Homo sapiens: one gene and its partner. The protein of the gene in region 1 interacts with the protein of each later gene in a biochemical or structural test. Each region holds a gene or a part of one and is shown on either strand. Other genes may lie near its edges. The genes, in order: CNOT11 and OBI1.

Evidence for each region.
Region 2: the proteins of CNOT11 (region 1) and OBI1 form a complex in vitro, tested with the Homo sapiens proteins (one study listed by BioGRID).

The regions. Positions count from the first base shown.
Region 1 is NC_000002.12:101,262,886-101,266,385, forward strand, and holds part of CNOT11 (CCR4-NOT transcription complex subunit 11), read left to right. Parts: intron 1-1,959; coding exon 1,960-2,162; intron 2,163-3,236; exon of another isoform or gene 3,237-3,500. UniProt on the Homo sapiens protein: Component of the CCR4-NOT complex which is one of the major cellular mRNA deadenylases and is linked to various cellular processes including bulk mRNA degradation, miRNA-mediated repression, translational repression during translational initiation and general transcription regulation.
Region 2 is NC_000013.11:78,652,444-78,656,473, reverse strand, and holds part of OBI1 (ORC ubiquitin ligase 1), read left to right. Parts: intron 1-4,030. UniProt on the Homo sapiens protein: E3 ubiquitin ligase essential for DNA replication origin activation during S phase.

The DNA of each region.
Region 1 (3,500 bases):
AATGCATGCCAAGTTGTTTGTTGCATGTCTATCCTATGCATACCTAAAGATACAGGCTGGGCGCAGTGGCTCACACCTGCAATCCCAGCATTTTGGGAGGCCGAGGCAGGTGGATAACTTGAGGTCAGGAGTTCTAGAGCAGCCTGGCCAACATGGTGAAACCCCATCTCTACTAAAAATAAAAAATTAGCCGAGTGTAGTGGCATGCATCTGTAGTCCCAGCTACTTGGGAGGCTGAGTCAGGAGAATTGCTGAGGCAGAAGTTGCAGGAGCCGAGATCGAACCACTGCACTCCAGCCTGGGTGACAGAGTGAGATTCTGTCTCAAAAAGGAAAAAAAAAAAATACAGATTCTCATTTTACTGAAATGAGTCTTTTTGTAGCAGCTCATTATCTTTTTGTTTTATACCTGTTAAATCTTCTTATTGCTATCATTTCCTTTTCCATTTTAAAGTTTTTCTTATAAACTCCTAATTTACTTTAATTCAAAGAAAACACTTGTAGAATTTGAAATAATATAGCTGCATTTTTTGGGGATTTCTTTAAGAGATGGAATCTTGCTATGATGCCCAGGCTGGACTCAATCCCTTGAGGCTCAGGGGATCCTCCTACCTCAGACTCCCACATAGTTGGAATTACAGGCATGCACCACTCTACCTGGCATCTGTTTTATAGGCTTCTGTGTGCTTTGAATTATGAAGGCAAGCTTTCTGCTTTGGGATGAGAACATGTTTACCAGATGATAGTGTAGTATCACCATGAGTTTGAAGTTCACACAGTGACTTTTGTACCATTTGGTTTACAGTAGATCTTTGACATACATAGGTTTAATATTTGAAGTTTCTGCTGGTCACAAGTGTGACTGAAATGTCCATGGCATGTAATGGCTTCTTTTAAATATTTGCTCGGGCAGAACTCTAAATTGCATAGGTCACCAGGAAGATATATGAAAAGCAGATCACTCATAATAAGTGGGTCTAGCCAAACACCAGGTGTCCCCACCTCGCAAGAACTCTCTATCACATAAGTAGTATTTCTCATAAATTGTTAAAAACTTTATTTTTGTAAGTGGTTGAAGGGAGATTCAGATGCTAGTCCTGGTGAGGTAAGTGAAGAGGCAGTGGAGATGTTTAAGATAAAGTGATGATTTTTAACTAAAAAATATTTTCTGTAAACTCAACAGTAGACTCTCAAATTTGGCAGGGCTAGGATCCATGACAGGAATAAGCCACTCCTGCCCTATGTGGAAACTATGTGAGATGTGAAATTGGTTCAGCAGAAGTCCTAGCCAGCATTTATTTCAGTGGGTTTGTAACTCAGGGATGAATCTTGTTTTATAAAATAGTTGAGTTGAACCACTTCATTTTCCTTTTGTACTTCTATTGTTTTCTGAAAATGAATATAGTATTTGTGAATTTAGGGATTCGTGACGGTTTCCACATTCGTTTCGAAATATCAAAAGGCAACCATACTTTTCCTCCTGCTGCTTCATCGCCACGTAATTTGTTACTTCAGTTATAAGATGCAAAGATAAAACTAGTACAAATCATAGTGGCAGCTGAACAAATAGTGGTAACTAAGAATAGGATGTGTGAGGGCATAGTATTTCATTTTTTCATCAAAAGACTTCACCCGTTTAGGAGTCGTGCCCTTTTGCTGTTGAGTGGCCATGCTCAAGTGCAGCATGGGCAGATCACGGCCAGGCTTTCCTCACTTCTGCAAAGCGAATAGATTGTTCTCTGGCATCATGCTGGCATAGTGTTCTTTCATTGTCTTGTTTGCATTCTGACTGAAACCCTGACTTCCTGTGTCATTCCTGCTTCTGATTTTGAAGTATGAGAGTTCTAGTCACATCATCCTTATTAAGAGATTTCTTTGCATACTTTATTAAGTGAAATGTGTGAGATGTGTAGAGATGTTAGCTTCCTGATAGGAGCAACTATCACGGCTCTCATTACAGGCCATTTTCGACCAGAGTTTATTCGTCCACCGCCTCCACTCCACATTTGTGAGGATGAACTTGCTTGGCTAAACCCCACGGAGCCTGACCACGCGATCCAGTGGGATAAATCGATGTGTGTTAAGAATAGCACTGGTGTGGAGATCAAACGAATAATGGCCAAAGCCTTCAAAAGCCCCTTATCCTCTCCCCAACAAACACAGGTGTGTATTGATTGTAAGCATTTTCTTATCTTTTTTTTTAAATTTATTTTTAATTAAAAAAATTTGTTTTTGAGACAGAGTCTCACTCGGCTGCCCAGGGTGGAGTGCAGTGGCACGATCTCGGCTCACTGCAGCCTCTGCCTCCCGGGTTCAAGTGATACTCGTGCCTCAGCGCCCCCAGCAGCTGAGACTACAGGCATGCACCACCATGCCCGGCTAATTTTTGTATTTTTATGAGATGGGGTTTTGCCATTGTTGGCCAGGCTGGTCTGGTGGCTTCAAGTGATCTGCCAACCTTGGCCTTCCAAAGTGCTGGGATTACAGGTGTGAGCCACTGTACCCAGCCATTGTGAGCATTTTCTTATCTTTAATCCAACAAGAGTTTATTTTTTTTTTGGAAAGTGGTAAGCAATAAACTAATCCTGTCACTGTGAGTGAGCAGTAGGAAGTTGCAAAGGTTTTTGGGTCTCTGAAGCTTTGTTCTACTCTTTGGTAATTTTGCTGTGGTGGGGCAAGAAGTCTGATGGCAAAAATGTTCTAACTTTTCTTTGTGATGTTTGTCCCTGGGAGAGGTGGGGTAGTGGGGGTGTCACTGCTGTGTACAGTGGGACACTACACAATGGTTACGTTTGAGCTGATGGTAACGCTTCTGATGGAAAGTGGAGTTACTGACAGGCTGTAGGGAGGAAAACAAGGCTGGGAAGGGGAACCCGCCCCCATCACACAGCTGGATCGTGGTGTATTTGAGATTAAAGTAGCCCCCACTGCCCGAGTGTGAGACTGGATGACTCTCCTCAGGAAAGGCAAGGCCACTCTTCTATTGGTTGGTGAATTTTATCCAGTTTGCACACTTTTGAGTTAGAACTTTTTAGGAGATGACCTCTCCTATCACGTTTGCCACCAAAAATATCATTTTCAAAACGAAATAATAGCAACGTTTGTAGTTCGCTTTGCTCGCAAGACCATCCTGAAAACACAGTCCACTGTGGAACATATTAAGTAGACGGGGGAAAAAAAGCATAGGACATTTAAAGAGGAAGTGCTTACTTCATAGAAAAAGTCCTTTGAGGATACCTGTTTGAATTACAAAGTGTGGGTGTGACTTGAACTGTAAAGTTCTGCAGACTGATGACTCGCAGCAGGTCAGCTGTCCGGATTCCCGCTCCGGCTTCCCACTCCGCCCCCTTCTCAGGTATTTCTGGTCTCCACCTGGGTGGGGTGGGGCAGGACTGTTTCTTGGGAGAACTAGTTGGTCATTAAGATTATTTTTAGTTACAACAGATGACAGAAAAAAAAAACCTGCAAAGGACTTGACATTGTTACAACCAGACAGTATTT
Region 2 (4,030 bases), on another chromosome or scaffold:
AGTAGCTGGGATTACAGGCATGCGCCACCACGCCCGGCAAATTTTGTATTTTTGGTAGAGACGGGGTTTCTCCATGTTGGTCAGGCTGGTCTTGAACTCCCGAACTAGGTGATCTGCCCGCCTCGGCCTCCCAAAGTGCTGGGATTACAAGCGTGAGCCACCACTCCCAGCTTAAGTTACTTAACTCTTTTGAGCCTGTTTCCTTATCTGTAACAGTAAAAATATGGTAATAACATCAACTCCCCATCCTTTCAGTTTTCAGAAGATTAAACAAAGCATGTGCAAAGTTTAGCATAAAGTCTGGCACATAATGTTTAATAACTGTTAGCTTTTACTATAGCCATTGAGGCCAGCCCTCAAACTGAGGAAACCAGCCTTTTCCAGTAATTGTTCTTCCCAGTTGCTTTGTGAGGCTGGAGCACTTCAAAATGAAGATTTGCATTCCCAACCAAATGAGACCTGTTTGTTCTGGAAATTGCCACAGTACATCCAGAATTTTCAGCTGGTTCCATGTCTCTTTTCTTTTTTATAGTGAAAGCAAATTCAGTATGATTGTGCTGCTCACCCTCCTACACGTATTATACTGTGAGATACTAAAACTGGCGTGTCCTCAGGTTCGCTTCTGCTTCCCTGACATAGAGCATCTCTGGCCACTTCTAAGAATGTTCCTAAGGTCCTTCGTGCCTAGCTCTTTTTTAAAGATAATTGTTCTTGTGCTACTGTTACCATATGTCCCCAGATCTCACAGTCAGCATCTTCTCTTTTGATTATTCAACAGAATTAAGGACCATTATCCCTGGAGGGTCACAAGGTGGATACCATGAAGGGGGAGAGATGAGGGCAGGGCATTAAATCTGAAGAGATAGATGCCAGTGGGGATGGAGAGGAAGGAGAGAGAGCCCAGGTATTCACCTGTTAATGCTTTGTCTTTGCACTTAAAATTGGAAAATTTACACCTCTGTCTCTACTTCAGTTTTAAAGGTGAATTTTCTCTACCCAATAATGTTTTTAGTTACTTTGCCAATATTGTAAGTAAGAGCTCTATGTGGCCTGAAGAAGTTAGGTACCATCCCATGGGATGATTTACGCATAACATATTTTCTTACCTATTCTTCCCTGTTTTTTTTTTGTTTGTTTGTTTCTTAAACTAGTGGGCCAGCAAGCAGAAATGTAGTAATGATCTATCCCAGAGTATCTGTTAAGTGACATTTTGATAGTGCCACCAGGCTGTTACAAACCAGTTTACCTCTAGATAATTCCAGGGTTTATCTTTTCAATTGGGACTCAAGCTGTGAAACCAAATTATGGCATGTAATACTTTTTATTGGCCGTGCATGCATTTTGCCATGAGTGAAAGCCAAATGTGGCCCGCAGTTGGTTTTATGAAAGGGTGAAGGAGATTCTCAAGAGAAATGCAAAGCAACTAATGCTTTTCAGCATTAATGTATCATATTCAGTTATTTCTCATTCGACTATGAGTCCAGTTTTGGGTCCTACCCTTTAAGATAAACAATAAACCAGAGTATTTTGAAAACATTTGGGGGAGAATGAAATTGGGATTGGAATGTAGGTGGACTGGAATAGTGCTGGAATGAATGGATATGATAGGGAATCTTTAATTAAAATATTTTTCATTTGGAAGGGACTCAAGCCTTGTGTGGCTCCATAAAATTATGATTTCTACTTAATATTAAGGGCAAGTGTTCTGGCTGAAATAACCAGAAATGAAATCAGCTTCCTTATAATGCAGGAGTTCCTGTGTCTTGGAGTATCCTCTAGTAGACTGACTGTTTCCCATAAGGAATGCTATCAAAAGGATCCCTTCTTTCAGGGATGCCTCTCTTCTTCTCACCCATATTGTTTATTTAAAATATTGAAAATATAGGGCTAGAGACAAAGCCTTATGCAACTTAGAGTCCTCACTCTAGGATGACAAAATTCATTAATCACTGTTCACTTGGAGCTGTTGATTGATCAGCAAGTCATCCACGTCAGTACATGGAGCCCATGTTTGAGTCCTGATTGCCTCTCAGTTCCCAAGAGTGGATTTAAGAACCAGCCTTGTACATAATTGTCATAAGTAATTTGCTTTGAAAAAAAGCCATATGGACTGCAAGTTCTACATTTTTCTCTTTTTTCCAGTTGAAAATAAGTTTGAAGGATTCACTTTCAGAAAAGTATAACAATATTGCATTTTATACATAGTGTATAATAAGTTAATTCAAAAATCGTAGATGTATCCTAGTAATTATCAGGGTTGGTATGTAATAGCTGACATACTTACTTGACAAGTACAATTCCAGTTTATCCCAAAGCATTTCTGGTAGGGATGAAGGTAGAAGAGAAGAGATGTATCATCTCTCCTTTTACCTAGACAGGAATGGGGAACCAGTTCTATAGGCATTAAGTGACTTATTTCACACAGGTTTTTTTTTTTTTTTTTTCCTTAAGTTATAGGACCTAAATTCTGGCCCAGAACCAGGGATTTCTTAAAACATAACCAAGAGCTATCCAGGAATTTTATTTTGGAAAGTTTCCAAATTCCTAATGTTGAAGTAGTGGTGCCCCTACCATAGTCATTTTTACACTGAAGACTAATCCTTTACATAGTCTTTCCAGGTCTTCACTAGAGAAACCGATAAAGTTTTGACAAGGTGCAAGAAAGAATAATATTCTTTCTAGAAGCACAGTTGGCTCTTGTCTCTAGTGAGGGGAGGATGCCAGAAGAGCAGGGGAGTTGGTTTTATAATAGATATAATTGCAAGACCAGTTGGTAAAGTTCATCAATACCGTCTTCACTCCCATCACCTCCATCAGTGTCCAGGATCTCACTTCCTTCAGGCACATCGTCCTGTATTTATTTCTCCCAGATTATTGTTCACTAACCCTGCTCCAAGGAAGAAAGAACTGTTTCTTAGTTGAAAGAACACATGATTTTGCAGTTGAATCACATTGAGTACAAATGCTAGCTCTACCATTTATAACCTGTATCATTATTTCTTAGAGTCTCAGTTTCCACAACTGAAAATGGATTTGATACAACAGCCCCACTAGCTTATTAGTAAGATTCCTTTGACTATACCATACTAGTGGTTCTCAACTAGGTGGAGGTAGATTTTGTCCCCCAGGGACATGGGGCAGTGTGTGGAGACATTTCTCATTGTTTTCAAGGGGCTGCTACTGGCATCTAGTGGGTAGAGCCCAGGGATGCTGCTAGCCAGACATCCTGTAATATGCAGGGAACCGCCTAAAACAAGACTTTCTTCAGTCCAAAATGTTAGTAATGTCAAAGTTGAGAAACGCTGTTTGAAGCCAATGTGTAACTCCTAGTGGGTAAGTCTAGGATGATATGGATATTAATGAACAACAGCCTTAGGCATGTCTCTGCCCAAGTATACTTGCTTTTTTAAGAAAGGGGATTTGGTGGTAGAGTGGACTCTCTTAAGACTGGAACATCTTTAAAAGAAATGAAATATCAGAGTAACAGATTGTAAGGTTAATATATCTGCCCCAAGAACTGCCCCCTCAGGCCCATTCCAGTAAGAAGAGCCCATCCTTTACACCTGGGGGATATACCCTAGGGCAGGAGTCTCCAGTCTCAGTCAGGTACTGTTCAGTCAGTGGCCTATCAGGAACCAGGACTGCACAGCAGAAGGCGAGCAGGGAGTGAGATAGTATTACCACCTGAGCTCTGCCTCCTGTCAGATCAGAGGCAGCATTAGATTTTCATAGGAGCATGAACCCAAATGTGAACTGTGCATGCAAGGGATCTAGATTGTGTGCTCCTTAGGAGAGTCTAATGCCTGATGTTCTGAGGTGAAACCCCCCAGTCTGTGGAAAAATTATCTTCCACGAAACCAGTCCCTAGTGCCAAAAAGGTTGGGGACCGCTCCCTAGGATACCACTTTACTATGCTTACTCCAGATGAGTTTGGAATTGTATGTCACTTACCATTGCCATTTTTTTGTCTTGCATTTTTATTTCATGAGTACTGTTTTATTGCCACGGGTCTCATTTGAGAGTAAATTGG